2 linked regions of the Homo sapiens genome follow. The protein of the gene in region 1 purifies or fractionates together with the protein of each later gene. This does not show direct contact. Each region holds a gene or a part of one and is shown on either strand. Other genes may lie near its edges.

Evidence for each region. Proteins that work in one complex are often made in the same cells at the same time.
Region 2: the proteins of TLR2 (region 1) and CLEC7A purify together in Homo sapiens (affinity purification with western blotting, with the first as the bait; one study listed by BioGRID). This does not show direct contact.

The regions. Positions count from the first base shown.
Region 1 is NC_000004.12:153,690,780-153,694,279, reverse strand, and holds part of TLR2 (toll-like receptor 2 precursor), read right to left. Parts: intron 1-3,500. UniProt on the Homo sapiens protein: Cooperates with LY96 to mediate the innate immune response to bacterial lipoproteins and other microbial cell wall components. Cooperates with TLR1 or TLR6 to mediate the innate immune response to bacterial lipoproteins or lipopeptides.
Region 2 is NC_000012.12:10,120,200-10,123,699, forward strand, and holds part of CLEC7A (C-type lectin domain family 7 member A), read right to left. Parts: intron 3,165-3,500; coding exon 3,046-3,164; intron 1-3,045.

The DNA of each region.
Region 1 (3,500 bases):
GGTCCACCCAAGATGGAAAACCACTTAAGGCATTCCTAAGCCACAAACAATAGCATGAGCGATCTGTGCCTTAAGGACGTGTTCCTGCTGCAGATATCTAGCCAGAGCCCATCGCTTTGTTTTGGCCCATCCCTTTGTTTCCTGTAAGGAATACTTTTAGTTAATCTATAATCTACAGAAATAATGCTTATCACCGGCTTGCTGTCAATAAATACGTGGGTAAATCTCTGTTCAGGGCTCTCAGCTCTGAAGGCTGTGAATCCCCTGATTTCCCACTCCACACTCTATGTTTCTGTGTGTGTGTCTTTAATTCCTCTAGCACTGCTGGGTTAGGGTCTCCACGACCGAGCTGGTCTCGGCAAGTGGCGCCCAACGTGGGGACTCAAACCCAGGATGAAGGCTCGCTGGAGCAATGGTTGGAAAACGTGGAACAAAGCTGGAGGATACCCGAGTACTCTTAAGCAATCCCCATGGTGAGTAAGAAGGGGAGCTCGGAAGCATCAGGGTAACAATGGGCAAGTGTGGGCTCTAGCTCATTCCACCTTGGAACCTTTTCACACTAAAGATGAGGAGGAAGGAAAGTATAATGAAGTAACAGAAGAGGTGACAGAGCAGGTTTGTTTGCCAGCTAAAGCTAAAGTGGCAAAGGAGGGAGAGGTTTGTCCCTACCCTTCTGCACCCCCTCATTATTTCGAAGCAAAAGAGTAGCCTGATCCTCCAGATCTTTCTTTTCCAGAGGACACTGGGCAAAAAGTAGTCGCCCCAGTGACTGAGCAGCACCTCGAGCGACCACTCTCAGTTCTATTCAGCCAGGAATTCAGCAAGTTAGAAGAGAGGGTGATATAGAGGCTTAGCAGTTCCCTGTTAGAATATACCCCGTAGATCAACAGGGAAATATTATAGCTACATTTGAGCCTTTTCCTTTTAAATTACTCAAAGAATTTAAACAAGCTATTAATCCATATGGAACAGGTTCTCCTTTTGTAATGGGACTGTTAAAGAAGGTTGCTGTCTCCAGTCAGATGATGCCAGCGGGGATGGTAGGATTACTTCTAGGTAGGTCTAGTTTAAATTTAAAAGGCGTGCAAGTACAAACAGGAGTCATTGATTCAGATTACAAAGGGGAAATTCAAATTGTTATATCTACTTCTGTTCCCTGGAAAGCAGAGCCAGGAGAGCATATAGCACAGCTCCTGATTATGCCATATGTGGAAATGGGGAAAAGTGAAATTAAATGAACAGGAAGATTTGGAAGCACAAATAAACAAGGCAAAGCAGCTTATTGGGTGAATCAAATTACTGATAAACATCCTACTGGTGAAATAACTATTCAGGGAAAGAAATTTAAAAGTTTGGTAGATACAGGAGCGGACATTTCAATCATTTCTGTACAGCACTGGCCATCTGCATGGTCAATTCAACCTGCTCAATTTAACATAGTTGGAGTTGGTAAAGCCCTTAAAGTATATCAAAGTAGTTATATTTTGCATTGTGAAGGGCCCAATGGACAACCTGGGACTATACAAAAAATTATAACTTCTGTACCTATAAATTTATAGGGAAGAGATTTATTACAACAATGGGGATCACAAGTTCTAATTCCAGAATAATTATACAGCCCTCAAAGTCAACATATGATGCATGAAATGGGGTATGTCCCTGGTATGGGACTAGGAAAAAATTTGCAAGCTTTGAAGGAAATGCTTCAAGCGGAAAGACAAAGTTCCCACCAAGGTTTAGGATATCATTTTTGATGGTGGCCATTGTTAAGCCTCCAGAACCTATATACCTTTAAAATGGTTAACAGATAAGCCAATTTGGATAGCACAATGGCTGCTGAGTAAAGAGAAACTGGAGGCTTTAGAGGACTTAGTTGCTGAACAATTAGAAAAAGGACACATAGCTCAACATTTTCCCCTTGGAATTCTCCAGTTTTTGTAATTAAGAAAAAATCAGGTAAATGCAGAATGTTAACTGACTTAAGAGCCATTAATTCAGTTATACAACCTATGGGGACATTGCAGCCGGGACTGCCTTCTTCTGCTATGATTCCAAAAAATTGGCCTTTAATAGTCATAAATTTAAAAGACTGTTTCTTTACTATCCCCTTAGCTGAGCAAGGCTGTGAACTGTTTGCATTTACAATTCCTGCAGTAAAAAACCTGCAGCATACTAAAGCATTTGTATTGGAAAGTGTTGCTACAAGGCATGTGAAACAGTTCAAAAATTTGCCAGACTTATGAAGGGCAAGCAATTGAACCTACTCGTAAAAAATTTTCACAGTGTTACATTATTCATTATATGGATAATATACTTTGTGCTGCCCCCACTCAAGAAATATTACTCCAATGTTATGATCACTTGCAAAACTCGATTTCTCATGCCAGTTTAATTATATAGCTCCTGACAAAATTCAGACTACTACTCCTTACTCCTACTTGGGGACCTTAGTAAATGACACTACCATTGTGCCACAGAAAGTAACTATACGTAGGGATCAATTGAAAACATTAAATGACTTTCAAAAATTACTAGGGGACATTAATCGGATATGACCTGCTCTAGGCATTCCCACCTATGCCCTGAGTAATCTATTTTCTATCCTTAGAGGAGATCCTAGTCTCATTAGCCCTCAGCAATTAACAAAAGAAGCTGAGGCAGAGCTGCAGCTAATCAAAAAGCAAATCCATAAATCTCAAATAAATAGAATAGATCCAAAAAAGACCCTAGATTTGCTAATTTTTCCAACTCAGCATTCACTTACTGGTGTTATTGTATAAGAGCAAGACTTTGTACAGTGGCTTTTTCTTCCACATACTAATTCACAGACTCTAACTCCTTATTTGGATCAAATGGCTACGATGATAAGAAATGGGAGAATTCGGATTGTTAAATTACATGGATATGATCCTGGAAAAATTATTGTCCCTCTCACAAAGGCACAAATACAGCAAGCTTCTATAAATAGTCTTACTTGGCAAACCCATTTAGCTGACTTTGTGGGTATTCTTGATAATCATTTTCCTAAAATGAAATTATTTCAATTTTTGAAATTAACTAATTGGATTCTCCCCAAAATAACTAAATTTAAACCAACTGAAGGTGCTGAGAATGTTTTTACAGATGGGTCTTGTAATGGTAAAGCCTCTTATTCTGGATCAAAAGGTAAAGTTTTTCACACGCCCTATACTTCAGCTCAAAAAGTGGAGCTTTAGCTGTAATTGAGGTATTGACTGCTTTTGATATGCCTATTAATGTGATTTCTGATTCTTCCTATGTGGTTCATTCCATACAATTAATTGAAAATGCTCAGTTATGACTTCATACAGATGAACAACTGATGACTTTATTTACCCAATTGCAAACAGCATTTAGGAGTAGAATGCACCCTTTTTACATCACTCACATTAGGGCTCATACACCTCTTCCAGGACCTTTAACTGAAGGGAATCAAATGGCTGATCGCCTAGTTGCTACTGCAATATCTAATGCTAGACACT
Region 2 (3,500 bases), on another chromosome or scaffold:
TCAATGGGTCTGTAATGAATGTAACTGGGATTCCAGGAGAAGGGAAAAAAGATGGGGAAAAGCAAAATATGAAGCAAGTATGGCTGAGAATTTTTCAGTGCTGAGTAAACACATTAGTTTTAAAACATATATTACCTTCAAACAGATGACCTCTCAAAAACAACAGTAAAAAATAGAAAACAGTGGAATAATATATTTGAGTGGCTGAGAGGAAAAACAACAAACCTCTAATTCTATACTTACTGGAAATATCAGTCTTAAGAAAAAATACCTGTAATGTACAGTTGGAAAGGAAGAAAGAAATAAACAACTAAAATCATAAATATGTGGGCAAATTGAAATGAATACTAACTGCATAAATCTGTGCGCCACCTTGTCTGTCTAATTTTTATATCTTTTTTTTTTTTTTGTAGAGATGGGGTTTCACCATTTTGGCCAGGCTGGTATCGAACTCCAGAGATCAAGTGATCCGCCTGCCTCGGCCTCCCAAAGTGCTGGGATTATAGGCGTGAGTCCCCGCGCCCGGCCCAAGGGCTAGTTTTTTCTTTTTTCTTTTTCTTTTTTTTTTTTTTTAATACTGAGTCTGGCTCAGTCACCCAGGCTGGAGTGCAGTGGTGCGATCTCGGCTCACTGCAACCTCCGTCTCCCGGGTTGAAGCAATTCTGGTGCCTCAACCTCTGAGTAGCTGGGATTACAGGCGTCCACCACCACACCCAGCTGGTGACGCATAGCTGTAGTCCCAGCTACTCAGGAGGCTGAGGTGGGAGAATCGCTTGAACCCAGGAGGCAGAGGTTGCAGTAGGCCAAGATTGCCCCACTGCACTCCAGCCTGGGCGATAAAATAAAAATAAATAAATAAAAATAAATACATTAATATAATAGCATATAAATTGAGGAGAGAGTCAACAGAGTAAAGGAATGCTCTATGATTTTTATATTGGTCAGGAAGAACATAAAAATGTCAGTTAATGTTAGTCTTTGATGAGTGAAGTATACATGTGTAATTCCTAGAACAACTACTAAAAGATTAGTAAAAGAGATGTAAAAGACATGAAAGAGCACATTCCAAATGAACAGAAAAAAAAAACAGAATAAGAAAAAGTGTTAAATCGTCCAAAAAGGAGGAAAGAAAGGGGAAAAAAAGTAACAATTCTAAATCTTTATGTGCCTGATAACACGGCTTCAACACATCGAATAAAATGTTTACAGAACTGTAAGTAGAATCGCAGCGGAAGATTTCAACACAATTCTTTTCATATGGAAAGAGGAAGAAGCACGTAAAAATCACAGAACTACAAGCACGTGGAGCATGTTCTCTGATCACAGTGGAACTAAGCCTGAAACCTAAAACAAAGAGATAACCAGAAACACATATGTTTGTAAATTAAGAAATGCATTTCTAAATAACTCCTGGGTCAAAGAGCAGCTCACAGTGGAAATCAGAAAGTATTTTGAACTGAAAGACAATGAAAATACATTAAAATTATAGCCTTAAGTCTACATACTTGAGATAAAGGAAGGCTTAAATTCATGAGGCAAGCACCCAATACGAGAAGTTTGAGATGGAATAGCAAATTTAAAACAAATAAATTAGGTCAGGAGATCGAGACCATCCTGGCTAACACGGTGAAACCCCGTCTCTACTAAATATACAAAAAATTAGCCGGGCATGGTGGTGAGCGCCTGTAGTCCCAGCTACTCAGGAGGCTGAGGCAGGAGAATGGCGTGAACCCGGGAGGCGGAGCTGGCAGTGAGCCGAGATCGCCATTGCACTCCAGCCTGGGTGACAGAGTGAGACTCTGTCTCAAAAAATAAAACAAAATAAAATAAAAATAAATTAGATGGAAGGAAGTAATACAGATTAGAATAAAAGTTAATGAAAGAAATAATAAAAAGACAGAGTCAACAAAGTCAAAAGTTACTTTCTTTGAAAAACCAAATTGAACGGTACTCCTACTGAGACAGATGAAAAAACACACACAGGTGTGCACACACACACTAATAATAAGAACTTAAAAGAGACATATTTCATATTCTGCAGATATTAAAAAGCAAATGAATGACAACAGCAGTGACAGAAACCACATAATAAGGAATAATGTATCATCAGGCAAATGTGAAATACGTTTAAAATATCTTTCTAAAATGCAAAATGTGAAAATGTGGTTGCTTTTTAACTTAATAATAAGTCTCACACATTAACTATGTACAAGACACTGTGCTAAATTATTTTACTTTTATACCCATCTCACAATTCTAAGAGGAAAGCACTCTTTCTTTTTTTCTTTTTTTTTTTTTTTTTTTTTGAGTTGGAGTCTCACTGGAGTCTCACTCTGTCATCCAGGCTGGAGTGCAATGGTGCAATCTCAGCTCACTGCAACCTCTGTCTCCCAGGTCCAAGCAATTCTCCTGCCTCAGCCTCCTGAGTAGCTGGGATTTCAGGCAATGCCACCACACCCGGCTAAATTTTTAGTGGAGGTGGGGTTTCACCATGTTGGTCAGGCTGGTCTCAAACTCCTGACCTCAAGTGATCCGCCCACCTGGGCCTCCCAAAGTGCTGGGATTACGGGTGTGAGCCACCACACCTGGCCAAGAGCACCTTTCTATTCTTGTTTATGGAAAATGGGACTCAGAGAGGAAAAGTGACTTATCCCCAGTGTCACACAATCAGTGAGTGGGGTAATCATTAACCCAAACTGAGGCCTGGCTTCAAAACCCATGCTCTTAACCGGGGAGTTACACTGACTGACAGTGACTGCTCCTTGCCTGGACAACTTCAAACATGTCGATGCCTCCCTAGTAAGAAAACCAGAAGAATATCTGTGTTGATGCTACTAGATGGCCTCACTCTTTTTCACTCTAAGGTCCTCCTCATCTTTCTCCTCTTGTCCTAGTTCACTCTTTCTCTTCTTCTATATCTTTCTCCCTCTCTTTCTCATATATGGTGAGCAAATCAGGTTCTTAGCTGCTCGACAGAGGTTTTCATAGATGAGATGGAAACCTCTCTGAGAAAAAGGATGAAGCATTGTCTCTCCAAACACTTACAAGTTAGAAGAGAATGTTGATCCATCCTCCCAGAGCCATGGTACCTCAGTCTGGGGCCGAGAAAGGCCTATCCAAAATGAATTATCAGGTTGGGAAGACACTTGTTTTACTATAAATCCCTGTAATGAAACATATACAAATATATAATAAAGAGAGAGAGAGAGAGAGAAAGAAACTATTATCATGGACGCTGAGAAAAAGACAACTGATTGAATCACTTTGGTAAAGAATGCAAGGCCGGGCGCGGTGGCTCACGCCTGTAATCCCAGCACTTTGGGAGGCCGAGGCGGGTAGATCATGAGGTCAGGAGATCGAGACCATCCTGGCTAACAAGGTGAAACCCCGTCTCTACTAAAAATACAAAAAATTAGCCGGGCGCGGTGGCGGGCGCCTGTGGTCCCAGCTACTCGGGAGGCTGAGGCAGGAGAATGGCATGAACCCGGGAAGCGGAGCTT